4 separate regions of the Homo sapiens genome follow, and regions 1, 2 and 3 are each reported to be linked to region 4. The links are microRNA targets in miRTarBase. Many come from high-throughput screens and were not tested one by one. Region 4 holds a microRNA gene; each other region holds the end of a gene's coding sequence.
The links. Region 4 holds the annotated microRNA hsa-miR-548ao-5p (AGAAGUAACUACGGUUUUUGCA, at 823-844, shown strand). A microRNA usually pairs through its seed, bases 2 to 8, with sites in the 3' UTR of a target mRNA and lowers its output. Matches are read on the target gene's strand: a 7mer-m8 pairs with bases 2 to 8, a 7mer-A1 pairs with bases 2 to 7 and ends in A, and an 8mer does both.

Region 1 (3,118 bases), not on the chromosome of region 4:
TTTTGACTTAATTACAGTGAGGGCCCCAAGGCTGTTGCAGCTCCTCGACCTGATCGGTTGGTCAATCGCTTGAAGAATATCACTCTGGATGATGCCAGTGCTCCTCGCCTAATGGTTCTTCGTCAGCCAAGGGGACCAGATAACTCAATGGTATGAGGGCATACAAGGCTTGGGGGAGGCCAACTGATAGACCAACATAAAATATGTGGTCCTATTTAAACAATAGGTCAGGAAACTTAATGAAGCAGGGAGACTTCCATATTGCTTATAACTAGTTAGGACTTTCTACACATTGGTTCAGCCCCCTAACCTAATGGTTGCTTACAGTAAGAAGCACATTTCTTTTCTTGATGCTTTGAAGACAGTTTAGGTAATGAATGGGTCAGGAGTGCTTACTGTGGATTTTCTCCTCTAGGAAAGAATTAGTACTGCATAAGATGATTAAAAATAATGCTTTTGTAGTTTCATTTCGGAATAGTGAATGTACTATGATTGTTGTGCGCTCAAATCATTAACTGCAGGGTTTTTTTTTTCTCCCCCCCACAGGGGTTTGGTGCAGAAAGAAAGATCCGTCAAGCTGGTGTCATTGACTAACCACATCCACAAAGCACACCATTAATCCACTATGATCAAGTTGGGGGGAATCTGGTGAAGGGTTCTGAATATCTCCCTCTTCATCCCTCCCGAAATCTGGAATACTTATTCTATTGAGCTATTACACCAGTTTTAACACCTTCCTCGTGTTATGTTTAAAAAAATAAATAAATTTAAGAAAACCATTTTAAATAATGCACAGTTGCAGCCTGGAAAAACTTAAGGTGGCGCCTTATAGTATCAATTTTAGGAGCTTTATTTGGTGCATTTAACGCAACTGGTAATTGCAGAATCCACTTTGCCTGTGTAAGTGAAAAATATAGACTGTTATCTTGTTGGCCCTATGAAATTCTGCACTTTTCATTATATACTCTACCTTCATTAATTACTTCTGGCAAGATGTTCTGCCTTAGCACTCAGTTGCATTCTTTTCCTTTTTCTTCCTGTTCATTATGCTTTAATTCTGAGGACCATATGAGGGTAGAATATATTATCTTTTAAAAATTACAAAAATTTGTATAGGCAAACCATTTCTTAAAGTTGATGGCCAAATTTTAAAATGTTATTTTTCATATCATTTATAATCTTGTCACAATCCACTTAAAGAAGTTTGGTTATATTTCAGTGAAAATTTTCTTCCAGAGTAGGTTTTTTTTCGTGGGTTGGGGGGTAACTTTACTACAATTAGTAAGTATGGTGCAGAATTTCATGCAAATGAGGAGTGCCAGCAGTGTGATAATTTAAACATATTTAAACAAAAACAAAAAAAATGAATGCACAAACTTGCTGCTGCTTAGATCACTGCAGCTTCTAGGACCCGGTTTCTTTTACTGATTTAAAAACAAAACAAAAAAAAATAAAAAAGTTGTGCCTGAAATGAATCTTGTTTTTTTTTATAAGTAGCCGCCTGGTTACTGTGTCCTGTAAAATACAGACACTTGACCCTTGGTGTAGCTTCTGTTCAACTTTATATCACGGGAATGGATGGGTCTGATTTCTTGGCCCTCTTCTTGAATTGGCCATATACAGGGTCCCTGGCCAGTGGACTGAAGGCTTTGTCTAAGATGACAAGGGTCAGCTCAGGGGATGTGGGGGAGGGCGGTTTTATCTTCCCCCTTGTCGTTTGAGGTTTTGATCTCTGGGTAAAGAGGCCGTTTATCTTTGTAAACACGAAACATTTTTGCTTTCTCCAGTTTTCTGTTAATGGCGAAAGAATGGAAGCGAATAAAGTTTTACTGATTTTTGAGACACTAGCACCTAGCGCTTTCATTATTGAAACGTCCCGTGTGGGAGGGGCGGGTCTGGGTGCGGCCTGCCGCATGACTCGTGGTTCGGAGGCCCACGTGGCCGGGGCGGGGACTCAGGCGCCTGGGGCGCCGACTGATTACGTAGCGGGCGGGGCCGGAAGTGCCGCTCCTTGGTGGGGGCTGTTCATGGCGGTTCCGGGGTCTCCAACATTTTTCCCGGCTGTGGTCCTAAATCTGTCCAAAGCAGAGGCAGTGGAGCTTGAGGTAAGTTTATCTCATGCATAGTGTTCGGCTTTGGGCTGTGGAATGTTCAGGCGTTTCACTGATGCCAGAAATGGAGCAGAATCTATCAGCTGGAGACAAAGGCCTTGGGCGGGGGTCCTTCCATTTGGTGCCTACGTGGGGAGATCTTTGGAGACAGAAGGGAGAATGGGAAGGAGTTGCGGCCTGGAGGCTTCCTGCTAGAGCTGAGAAGCCTTCGGGGAGTAATAGGAAGGGGGATTTCCATTGCTTAGGCTGAGGGCGGGGCCCAAGGACTGTTGAAAAATAGCTAAGGATGGGGGTTGCTAGAAAACTACTCCAGAAGTGTGAGGCCGATATTAATCCGGTGTTTTTGCGTTCTCTAGTCACTTTAAGAACCAAATGGAAGGTCACACTAGGGTTTTCATTTCCATTGATTATAGAAAGCTTTAAAGTACTGTAGATGTGGCTCGCCAATTAACCCTGATTACTGGTTTCCAACAGGTTCTTGCTGGTGTGAAATGACTGAGTACAAACTGGTGGTGGTTGGAGCAGGTGGTGTTGGGAAAAGCGCACTGACAATCCAGCTAATCCAGAACCACTTTGTAGATGAATATGATCCCACCATAGAGGTGAGGCCCAGTGGTAGCCCGCTGACCTGATCCTGTCTCTCACTTGTCGGATCATCTTTACCCATATTCTGTATTAAAGGAATAAGAGGAGAGAAAGTAAAAAGTTATTTTGGGTATACATTCAGTTATGCAATAAGCTTAACGTGTTTATAGAGAACAGTTCATTTTTATTAGCTGCTGAAGTTTCTAAAACCTGTCCAGTTTTTAACAGTTCTGTAAACTATTGCAAACTCAGTGTTGAGTTCATTCATGAGTTTCTTCATATATAACAGCTCTATTACATGAGAAACACAGGCCATAGTAGCGAGACTGTCTGATTGTATGGGAGATAATAGGATGGAGATAAAGGATTCAGAGATGAGTGTTCTTCAATATTTATTTATTAGCTAGTTGAAGCAGCTGAGA
Region 2 (3,118 bases), not on the chromosome of region 4:
AGATTTGATCAATCTTTTTGTTTTGTTTTTAAACTAAAATCTCTAAACACACCAATGTCCCATTCCAAAATATTGCACAACATTCTGAATACAAAACCCTTGATTGTATTCCTCCTTCACTAAAGAAAAAAGTTCATGACCCTGCTCCCCGGGCTCCTCTCCAGGCTTGCCTCAATGCCCCCTTCCCATCCCTAGGGAGAAAACTAGAGAATCTATAACTCACTGCATTGAGAAAAACACATCATTCTGGACTAACAGTTTCCATTCTTCAGAAGATAATCCACCTTTTGATTTGTTCCTGGGAAAGAGGGATAGATAGAGGATGGGGAAAGGGGAGAAAAGGTTTTATTTCTCCTCTTTTTTTTTTAAAGTTTGTTTTTCCTGAAAAAATATGTTTCTCTCATCTTTTTAAGAAAAAATCTTGAAAAGAAAAAAATTATGTTTTTTACGTTAGAAATATACATATATTATATACCTCTTACATTTTACAAATGTAGCAAATTATTCAATACAAACGGACACCAAAAAATGTAAAAAATAAAAAAAAGTTTTCCTACGAAACCAGGTAAATTAGTGCAGATTTCTGTTTTTGTATTCTTAAAAAAAATAAAATTGAAGCAAAAATGCCTAGATTTGAGACAAGACAGACTGAACTGGGCCCAAGAGCGCAGCACTGGAGTCATGCTCCTGAACACACATTTTTCTTCGTATTTCAAAAGACACAAAGGGGTTGGTCTCCCCTCTCTCCCTACATGTGAGAAACAAGCCGACCTGGTGTGGGTGGGTGCCTGTGTGTGTGGATGGGAGGAGGGCTAGAAGGGGATGTAAGGCAGCATCCAACCTTTCCCAGAGAGAAGCTATCTGCTGGGTCTGTCACCTGTGTGGGAGCCGAGGATGAGGGAAACAAAGGGTGGCCCAGACTGGGCTGGCCCCTGAGAAGTCTAGGGGAACAGATGGTGCTGGGCTGAGAAGCCAGGACATTGCCTGCCGGGGGAGGTAGAGCTGGTGCCTACTGCAGGGAGAGGAGGCTGGCAGTGCTGGCCTGGGCTGGACCCACTGCCATAACAGTTGCCTACTTGGGGTCCCTGGGTAGGATGGAGTGGGTGGGGTGCCAGGGGCTTTGGTGCTTTCTGGTGATTGGGACCCTGATGCCAAGTGCCCACTTTGCAAAGAAGAAAAAGTTAATGACCCTGCTCCCTTGGCTCCTGTCCATGCTTGCCTGGCCTCCTAGAGTTGGAGGAACAAGCCCTCTCCTGGCAGAGGCAGGAGAGCAAGTGCTCTCCTATGATCCAATACATCAGGCGGGAGTGCTGAGTCCGTCAGGACACCACTCCTCGCAGCATCAAGGTCCAGTGGGGTTGGGTCAGGGCAGTGAGAAGGGGTGGCAAGAGGTACCAAGAAGCTCTCAACCAGGCAGGGGCACAAATGCACTCAACACCTCCAAACTAAGAGACCCCAAAGTCTCAACTCCAGGCTCAGGGCTGCCCCCGCACAGACACTAACTCTAAAATCCCACCCTGCCTCTCTGCCCACCCCCAAGGGTGCTCAGGTGAGCAGCTCCCTCTGGGCTAAGGCCAAACAACAGGAGGGTTGAAGTCCAGGGACTTCTCATAGGCATCAGGGGCTTGGGTATTCCCTCTGCCCTTCAGAGCTAACTTATTATTATTTTTTTGGTCAAAAACAAAACTGCAGATCCTTCCACAGTCTGCAAACCAGTTCCTTCTGCAGTGTTTTCCTCTGGGAGTGTCTTGGGCTAAGCCACAGCGGTGTCACCCCACCACACACACTGCCCTGCAAAAGGACTGCCAATACCCCCAGCCCATTCCCCAGCCTCACATATAAATAAGGACTTGCGACCCAGAATCACATCCAGAAGGGAAGTTTCACATGGCTTGGAATCCTTTAAAAAAGGACAGCAAACCAAATACACACACACACACCCCTCCCTACCCACAACATCCAGCCTGGGGAAGAAGGGGCTGCATGAGGGAAAGAAAGCCCATACACATCAATGGCCAGGGCCATGATGATGGTCTGGGCCTAGAGGGAATGGTGGGGTGGGGCCATAGGACAGAGATGAAAGGAGTTTCACTAGACGAAGTGCTAATCTCCCTGTAGTCACAGACATCAGCTCCAGGGGGAGGGTGTCAAGTGGCCAGCCAGCAACTCCCTGTGGCCCAGCCTGAAAGGGAGTGGGGACTGGGGTCAGACCTATTCAGGTGGCAGGGCCCGAGAAGGCCTGCTGAGGTTGGATGGCTTTGAGTGCGAGGATAGCTGGGTGACAGAGGCAGTGACACGGGCCAGCCTCTCCCTGTTCCAGGGAGGGTCAGGCTCCAGCTGCAGCTCTTTCTTCCCTATGAGCTTGGACACATCAATCCTAAACTAGGAGTGTGAAGGAGGAAGGGAGGAGCAGGGAGCAGCAGTTCACATCTGGACCATTCTTAGCACAGGAAGCCACTCATTAAAGATGTTATATAGAAAACTACATGTAAGAAAAAAAAAAAAGAAAAAGAAATATAAAACCCAAACCAACCAAATAAATCACAGGCCGGTGGGCGAGCGGTAAGGGGTGAGTGAAACACACTTGGGTGCTTTGCAGGGCCCTCCCATTCCGTGCCTGGGCTGGATCTTTTTTCTAGAAGTAAGAGTGAGAAGATCGAAAATCTTTTTGTACATTTTTCTTTTCCTCTTTTTTTTGGCCTTTCCTTTCTCTTTTCTGTGGTCTTGGGTGCTCCTGGCCCCACGGGCAGGTAGATGGTCAGTTGGCCAGCACCACGGGCTGGAACTGCTGGCTGGGATACTGCATGGTGTTCAGGTTGTAGCTGAGGCCTTCCACAAAGGGTGTCTTCTCCAGGAAGAGGCTGTTGGCACCACCTCCAAATACCTGGGCCATGTCAAAGCTGCTGCTGTTGCAGGTGCCAGCCCCACTGCCTCCAAACGGGCCTGGGGTGCCGCTGCCCTGGCCATCGGCCGCATCAAAGAAGAGGCTGGGTGAGCCACCACCGTTGTACACGAACTCCTTGGCATTGGGTGAGAGCTGGGACTGAGGGGCCGGGTTGGCCGTGATGAAGTTCAGTGAATGCATAGACAGAGAGAGGCTCTTGTGCTTCAGCAGGCT
Region 3 (3,118 bases), not on the chromosome of region 4:
TGTATTGCTTGTGAGAACTTGAACTGTTTACTAGTTAATTGAAGAAAAAGTGTAACACTAAGGTGAACTTGCTTCCCTTTTCACTAATTTTGCTAAACTTTGTAATGCACATTCTTAGCATATAACTGAACACAGTTGAAAAATTGTGCCTGATTATAATGTATGTATAATGGTAGGTGTTTGTGTGTGATTCATTTTTAAAGAAATATTTTTCTCAAGCTCCTATTACTATTTGTGGTTGTATTATTTCACTAATCATTAGTTAAGACTGTGCTAGTCTTCCCTGGGAAACTAAGAAGAGAGCTTTTTTATATACAGTATATTAGAATTTTCCTAGTAGCTGAATTTCTGTATTAGGTCTAAATATTACTGTATGTTATATAAAGCAGGTATGTCAAGTGTATAGCCGTAGTCTATAATTCAGGAATGCTTTATAACCATCAGAAGCCATTATTTGCACTACATATATGATAAGTATAGACAGCAATAAAATGTTAAGATCATTTTTAAGAAGTCCCATCATTATTCTTGAAAGTCTCTTTCTTGAACCATCTACCTAATATTATTGCTAGTTGTAACCAATTTAAGAAGTCATTATTTGTGCTGTGGTTAGGAGAGAAAATAAAACAAAATGGGTATGGGTTGGCATGCCTGTCAAATTTGAGATGTAGTTTATTTGATACAGCAAAATTTTAGAAATAACGTTTTGAATTTGCAACATAGGCCACATTTACTGATGAGAACAGATACTAAACTTGATCTTAACTACACCTGATCTTAGCCAAAAGGCCGAGAAGTAATGTGCAGGCCACATTTAAATAAGTAATATAACCATAGTGTTTTGAAGGCGGAGCTAAAGTTTTACATTGAACGAAGTGAAACTTTGTTACTGCCTTTTAAATTTTAAATGTAAACTTGTTTCATAAGAAAACATAGTATTTTAAATGACCATTTTAGAAAATGGCTTGCAAAACTTAGTGGTAGCTCATGAACTAATACTGCTAAGAGAAAGGCTTTTTATGTAACACTGGGATACTTCTCAATTGGCAAAGTGCTAACAAAGAAGAAGACAGCTGTATTCTTCCCTAAAAGAATAAAGGATGAAAAGGACTAATGAATAAGGATGAAATTATATCCTGATAACTTAAAACATGCTTTTAAAAAGACATGGGCAATGTATGTTTTTAGGTCTGCCGATTAAGTTTTTGATATTAATCGAAAAATTCATTAGTCAAATATGGTTTTCACTCAAAGCAAAATAATTGTATTTGTTGGGGAATGAGGCATCATCACCACTTGGTGGCAATATTACCAAAAATTTAGATTAAATTTTTAGGAATGAATAAAGCTAGGTAGGTAAGACTAAACAACTAAAATTAGAAACAGTAAATGTCACATTGAAAAGTCATTTTCATGTCTAACTTTAAGTTCTACTTTTAAAAAGGAGCATACATTACAGGAGCACAATCTGGCATAATCTCCTATCTATCTCACAACTTTGTAGCACGAAATAAATAAAGAATCCTGCTGATCAATAGAAGGAAAAGTTTAAGCCGATTTAAAACTTAAGAATATAAATTCCCTACACAGGTCTGTTGAGAATGTTCTTCCTGTAAGTTTCTGAAAGAAAGAGTCTTTCTTTCTGGAAACGAAGCAGTGAGTCTTAATAGTTATGAAGTTAGTTATAAGTGTAAGTGAAGAAGATCAATATAAGAATTTGTGCTCATATTGTTTTACTGCTCCAATTTCTACTAATCTCTCCATTGTTAGATACCAAAATTTTTATGTATACTTCTTAATGGTATATTTTCTAAAGATATACTATAACTTGAGGACAGAAAAAATTGTTTACCTATGTTAGAAAAATAATCTGAAAATCAACCTGCATATAATAAACTAAGGACTCAGGTATTCACTTATTCTGAATCTTTCATTTGAAAGAATATTTCATAATTATTAAGGAATATAACACTTTGACCAAAGTAACTTCCTGTTTATTGAGGCTTTACTCACCACTACTTACTAAACAGTTATCAAAAGACTAAAATATTTGGCATTGAAACCTTGTAAAACAAAGGAAATGACATATAATATCATATCCTAGTATTTTTTTCTTATAGGAGGGATCTGCACTCTTCTAAACATAAGGGCGGAATATCTGGCAGGTATTCAAAATTAAAGCACAGTTGTGTACCACTGTCATTATTTAATAGAGTTGTCATCGCACGGGATACCTTCTAAGACCTCCAGTGGATGCCTGAAACTTCAGATGATACTAAACCCCATATATATTGTGTTTTCATATATATATATCTATGATAAAGTTTAATTTATAAATTAGGCACAGTAAGAGATTAACAACAATAAAATAGAACAACTATAGCAGTATACTGTAATAAAAGTTAGTGAATGTGGTCTTGCTGTCTGAAAATATCTCACTGTATTGTACTCACCTATTTTTGGATCATGGTTGACAGTAGAAAGAAAACCATGGGAAAGGGGGTGGAGGAGAGTACTGTAATTATTTAATATTTAATTTGAGGCTGATTAGAAATTACCTATAATGAGTGCTATTTGCCTGAGTTTAGTCCATTTCAATTTATCACCTCCCAGGATTAGAAATATTGCGAGAAAAGTCAAAGGTAATTTTTAAAAAATAGCCTTTAATAAAAAATACAAAAATACTGTATCTTTGAAACATGATCTGTATATTCAGCAAGTCCTAAGCTTCCTAATGTAAAATAATCTGTTTAATATTGTATTTTTATTTGCAAGTACATTAAAACAAATCTTATTTTACTTGACAGTAATATTTATGATGCTGACATCCTCATAGGGCTTATCTGTTTTGGGATTGACTTTGACGTTGGAGATCCTCTGTACAACTTCCATTCCTTTAGTCACTCGTCCAAATACTGTATGCTTATTATCAAGCCAAGGCTGTGTTGGAGGACAAATGGAAAATCTTGGTAAACCCCAATTTCTTTAAATTATATCCTCTGGTTGAGCAAATTAAAGAGAATTTAAGTTTACGCTCCCCTTTAGCATATATTTAAAAAGAAGTACAATAATTTCTCAGCAATAAAAATGTAGCAGCTTTTAAAAGTTATTTCCAGTG
Region 4 (3,118 bases):
TCACCCAGGCTGGAGCGCAGGGGTGCAGTCATAGCTCACTGCAGCCTCAATCTCCCCAGACTCAGCTGATCTTCTCATCTCAGCTTCCTGAGTAGCTGGGACTACAGGCATGCACCACCATGCCTGGCTAATTTTTTTTTTTTGGTAGAGATGGGGTCTCACTATATTGCCCAGGCTGGTCTCTAACTCTTGGGTTCAAGTGATCTGCTTGCCTCAGCCTCCCAAAGTGCTGAGATTACAGGTGCGGGCCACCACTCCTGGCCATATTATCATTTTTTAAAGTTTTTTTTTTAAAATTTTATTTTATGTACAGAGAGCTAGCATGGTTTCTTTCACTTGGTGGATGCCTTGGATAATCCATTCAGGGAAGCTCACTTAGTCTAACCTAATGAAGCCTACCTCCTCTGCATACTGATGGAAACACTGGCAGCACATATTGAGGCCATAATGACAAGAATGAGAACCCTGGCCGAATTTTTTTGGATGGCTCCAGGAGAGCTGCTGGTGACCCATCTTGCTTTTAGGAGTGCAACAAGGCAAAAAGTGAAAAGTTTTTTTTTTTAATACTCCCTGCATTGTCTCTGTTATCTCTGAATTCCTTTTCTTCCTTTTCTGTTTTGTATGTTACAGTCTCTGCCATTCACATTTGGAGGCTTTCCTTAAATACTTGCCAGCCCTTGACTGTCCATTTGAATTTAACAGCGAGACATGACGTTGGAAGCTCTTTGTGTACATGCAGGGCCTGTGATTTGTTAGGCCTCACTTGAGAATTTTGCAGAGGGCCCATATGTCTTTTCTTTTGAACTATTCTTAGGTTGATGCAGAAGTAACTACGGTTTTTGCAGTTGAAAGTAATGGCAAAGACCGTGACTACTTTTGCAACAGCCTAATAGTTTCTTTAGAGAAAAACCACTCAATCCTCTGACACAGGCATATAAATGTAGTGTTCTAAGACCCGAGTGTCTCATTCTTCACTTTGCAGACTTTCATGTAACCCTTTGGTGTTCACGCAGCAGCACCTGTCCGGTCCTCCTCTGTGTCTAGTATACCCCAGCGGCAGGCTGTGTGCAGGTTCAGGCCTTCTTTTTTTCCCCCTTTTCTTTTCTTTTTCTTTTTTTTTTTTTGAGATGGAGTCTTGCTCTGTCACCCAGGCTGGAGTGCAGTGTGCGCTCTCGGCTCACTGCAATCTCCACCTCCCGGGTTCAAGCGATTCTCCTACCTCCAGCCTCCCAAGTAGCTGGAACTACAGGCCTTCTGTATGGAATGAAGCCCATGGCTACTGCTGGAGTTGGTGAGGGCAGCCACCTGGACTCATGGCCCAGGGGAGTAGGTTTGAGTGTCCATATGTAAACTTGCTGCCAATCCCAACATTGACAGCCTCTGTGATGGAGTTCAGGAGTGTCCGGGGGCCCCAATCAGGAGCATTTGTGGGACCTGGAGTGCAAATGGGCTTGTTTTTTACTGGCATCCCTGTCTGTCCCTCTTTTTCTTCTTTTCTCTGCACTTTACTGGCATCCCTATCTGCATTTTAGCTTTTCTTCTCCCTTTTAAGCCAGATTCTACCATCCATTTGCTTTCTGTCATACAAAATGTTGATATGTTCTTTTTTCCTTTACCACTTTCTTGCATGTGTTTATAACTTGTTTTTTTGACTCTAATTTTAAACTGACTTCAAGAAGAGTGGGAATGATTGCACGGGCTCAGTCTAATCCATGTGGCTAGCGTGCCTGCAAGTGCTCCTTCGCACTCAGTCCAGAAGCTTGGTGATATGGCTTCTCTCTTCTTTTCCCTTCCCATTGGATTTTTGCTCTCTGGAATTTGCCCTCACCACTCCAGATCCTGGCCTCCTATGGGTTGGCGTGGCCCCCTAATCACCCAGTGAAGTGCTCTAGTTTCAGACTCATTCTTAAGCTCTTCGGCACTTAGGGTTGAGGGGTGTTTCCTCCATTTAAATGGACCCTGTGGTCTTCATTGACACTGGGCTGCCTGGTTTCCCAGCGGGGCCTCCCGTGGCATTTACAGTAACTCTTCTTCCTTTCACCTGACGAAGGCGCTCTCTAGTATGTCCCTCTTTCCCTCTGTACTTTACCCTTCATTGCTACTATCATCTGCCATCAGAGGAGTTATAAGATTGATTCCTAATGCAACCCCATGCCACCTTTCCCCACAGACCCTTCCTGGATTCCTACAGCCATTCCACAGGACTGGTTATGAAATGACTGGCTCTGGGCCAATGGTTGCCTTACGTTCAAAGTCATGGGTAGGATGTCTCGGGCTTGGGAGGGTTGGAGGCACCACTCATAGAAGCAGGGAGTCAGGAGGAAGAGACGGCTTTGAAGAATGTGAGGGTTTGGGATGGTGTGTGATGACTTCCTCATTCTCATTTCAGCTTCCCAAATAAGGCCAGGCTTCTTGAGGGAGGCTACCAAGGAAGTATAATTTGTGAGCAAAAATGGTTTGGGTGACTGCAAGTAGAATGAAAGCTTAATGGCCTACTCAAATATAATGGATTATTTTAAGATTTCCCGAGAAAGACCCAGGCAGGCCCTTGTTGCAGCCTCAAATTTTGAGTTTTCAAAGTTTCTGGGTCTCTGAATTCTTGCTGGCAGCTATGCCTAGGTGGGAGTCATGTCCTACCCTTGGAGGATGTTAAAATTGTTGCTTAAGAAAAAAAACACATAATTTTTAAAATTTTTTTGTTTGGTTTTAGATTAGGGTCTAGCTGTTACAGGGAGCTGAGATCCAGGGTCCAAGGTGGTAGTTTAGTTTTAGCCCTATGCTCCAGGCACAGCAGGGTGCCCAATCAGGGAAGCATGGAGTGAGCACAGGGTGGGGATAGTGCTGGAGATAAACTTTGCTGTCTCCCAGAAGTACCCAGCAGGGGCTCCTCAGATGGTCGATCCACCAGGCCTGCAGTCGGATGGTGCCCTGCACTTTACAGACAGAGTACTGAGACTCAGAGAAGAACCCAGGACCTGGGACTGTATCCAGCTGTTGCCCCAGCTGCTACCTTCTGGGCTTCTGTTTGTTCACCACCACCATTTGCATTGCAAATTCAGGCCATGGGCAACATCGCTGGGGCCCAGGCCCTGTGAGCATGATGGGATGGGGTGGTGGT

Region 1: the mRNA of CSDE1 is a reported target of hsa-miR-548ao-5p. Seed matches in the 3' UTR shown: 7mer-m8 at 980-986.
Region 2: the mRNA of TOB2 is a reported target of hsa-miR-548ao-5p. Seed matches in the 3' UTR shown: 7mer-m8 at 2,639-2,645.
Region 3: miRTarBase lists PPWD1 as a target of hsa-miR-548ao-5p. The part of its 3' UTR that is shown has no 7-base or 8-base seed match.

What each region holds. Positions count from the first base shown.
Region 1 is chr1:114,715,645-114,718,762 of GRCh38, reverse strand. It overlaps CSDE1 (cold shock domain containing E1), which reads left to right. Exons shown (of 20, transcript NM_001007553.3): 19 at 18-150; 20 at 547-1,847. The coding sequence ends at 594. It overlaps NRAS (NRAS proto-oncogene, GTPase), which reads left to right and starts at 1,992. Exons shown (of 7, transcript NM_002524.5): 1 at 1,992-2,105; 2 at 2,586-2,713. The coding sequence starts at 2,603. RefSeq lists enhancers at 1,987-2,186, 2,197-2,296.
Region 2 is chr22:41,433,553-41,436,670 of GRCh38, forward strand. It overlaps TOB2 (transducer of ERBB2, 2), which reads right to left. Exons shown (of 2, transcript NM_016272.4): 2 at 1-3,118. The coding sequence ends at 2,759. Among named protein-coding and RNA genes, the nearest start is that of TOB2, 12 kb to the right of the region's middle.
Region 3 is chr5:65,587,075-65,590,192 of GRCh38, reverse strand. It overlaps PPWD1 (peptidylprolyl isomerase domain and WD repeat containing 1), which reads right to left. Exons shown (of 11, transcript NM_015342.4): 11 at 2,644-2,940. The coding sequence ends at 2,797. TRIM23 (tripartite motif containing 23) reads left to right here. Exons shown (of 11, transcript NM_001656.4): 11 at 1-503. Among named protein-coding and RNA genes, the nearest start is that of PPWD1, 25 kb to the right of the region's middle.
Region 4 is chr8:41,268,828-41,271,945 of GRCh38, reverse strand. It overlaps MIR548AO (microRNA 548ao), which reads left to right and starts at 803; the gene lies at 803-898. The region is part of intron 2 of SFRP1 (secreted frizzled related protein 1); the gene reads left to right. It also overlaps the pseudogene RPS29P2.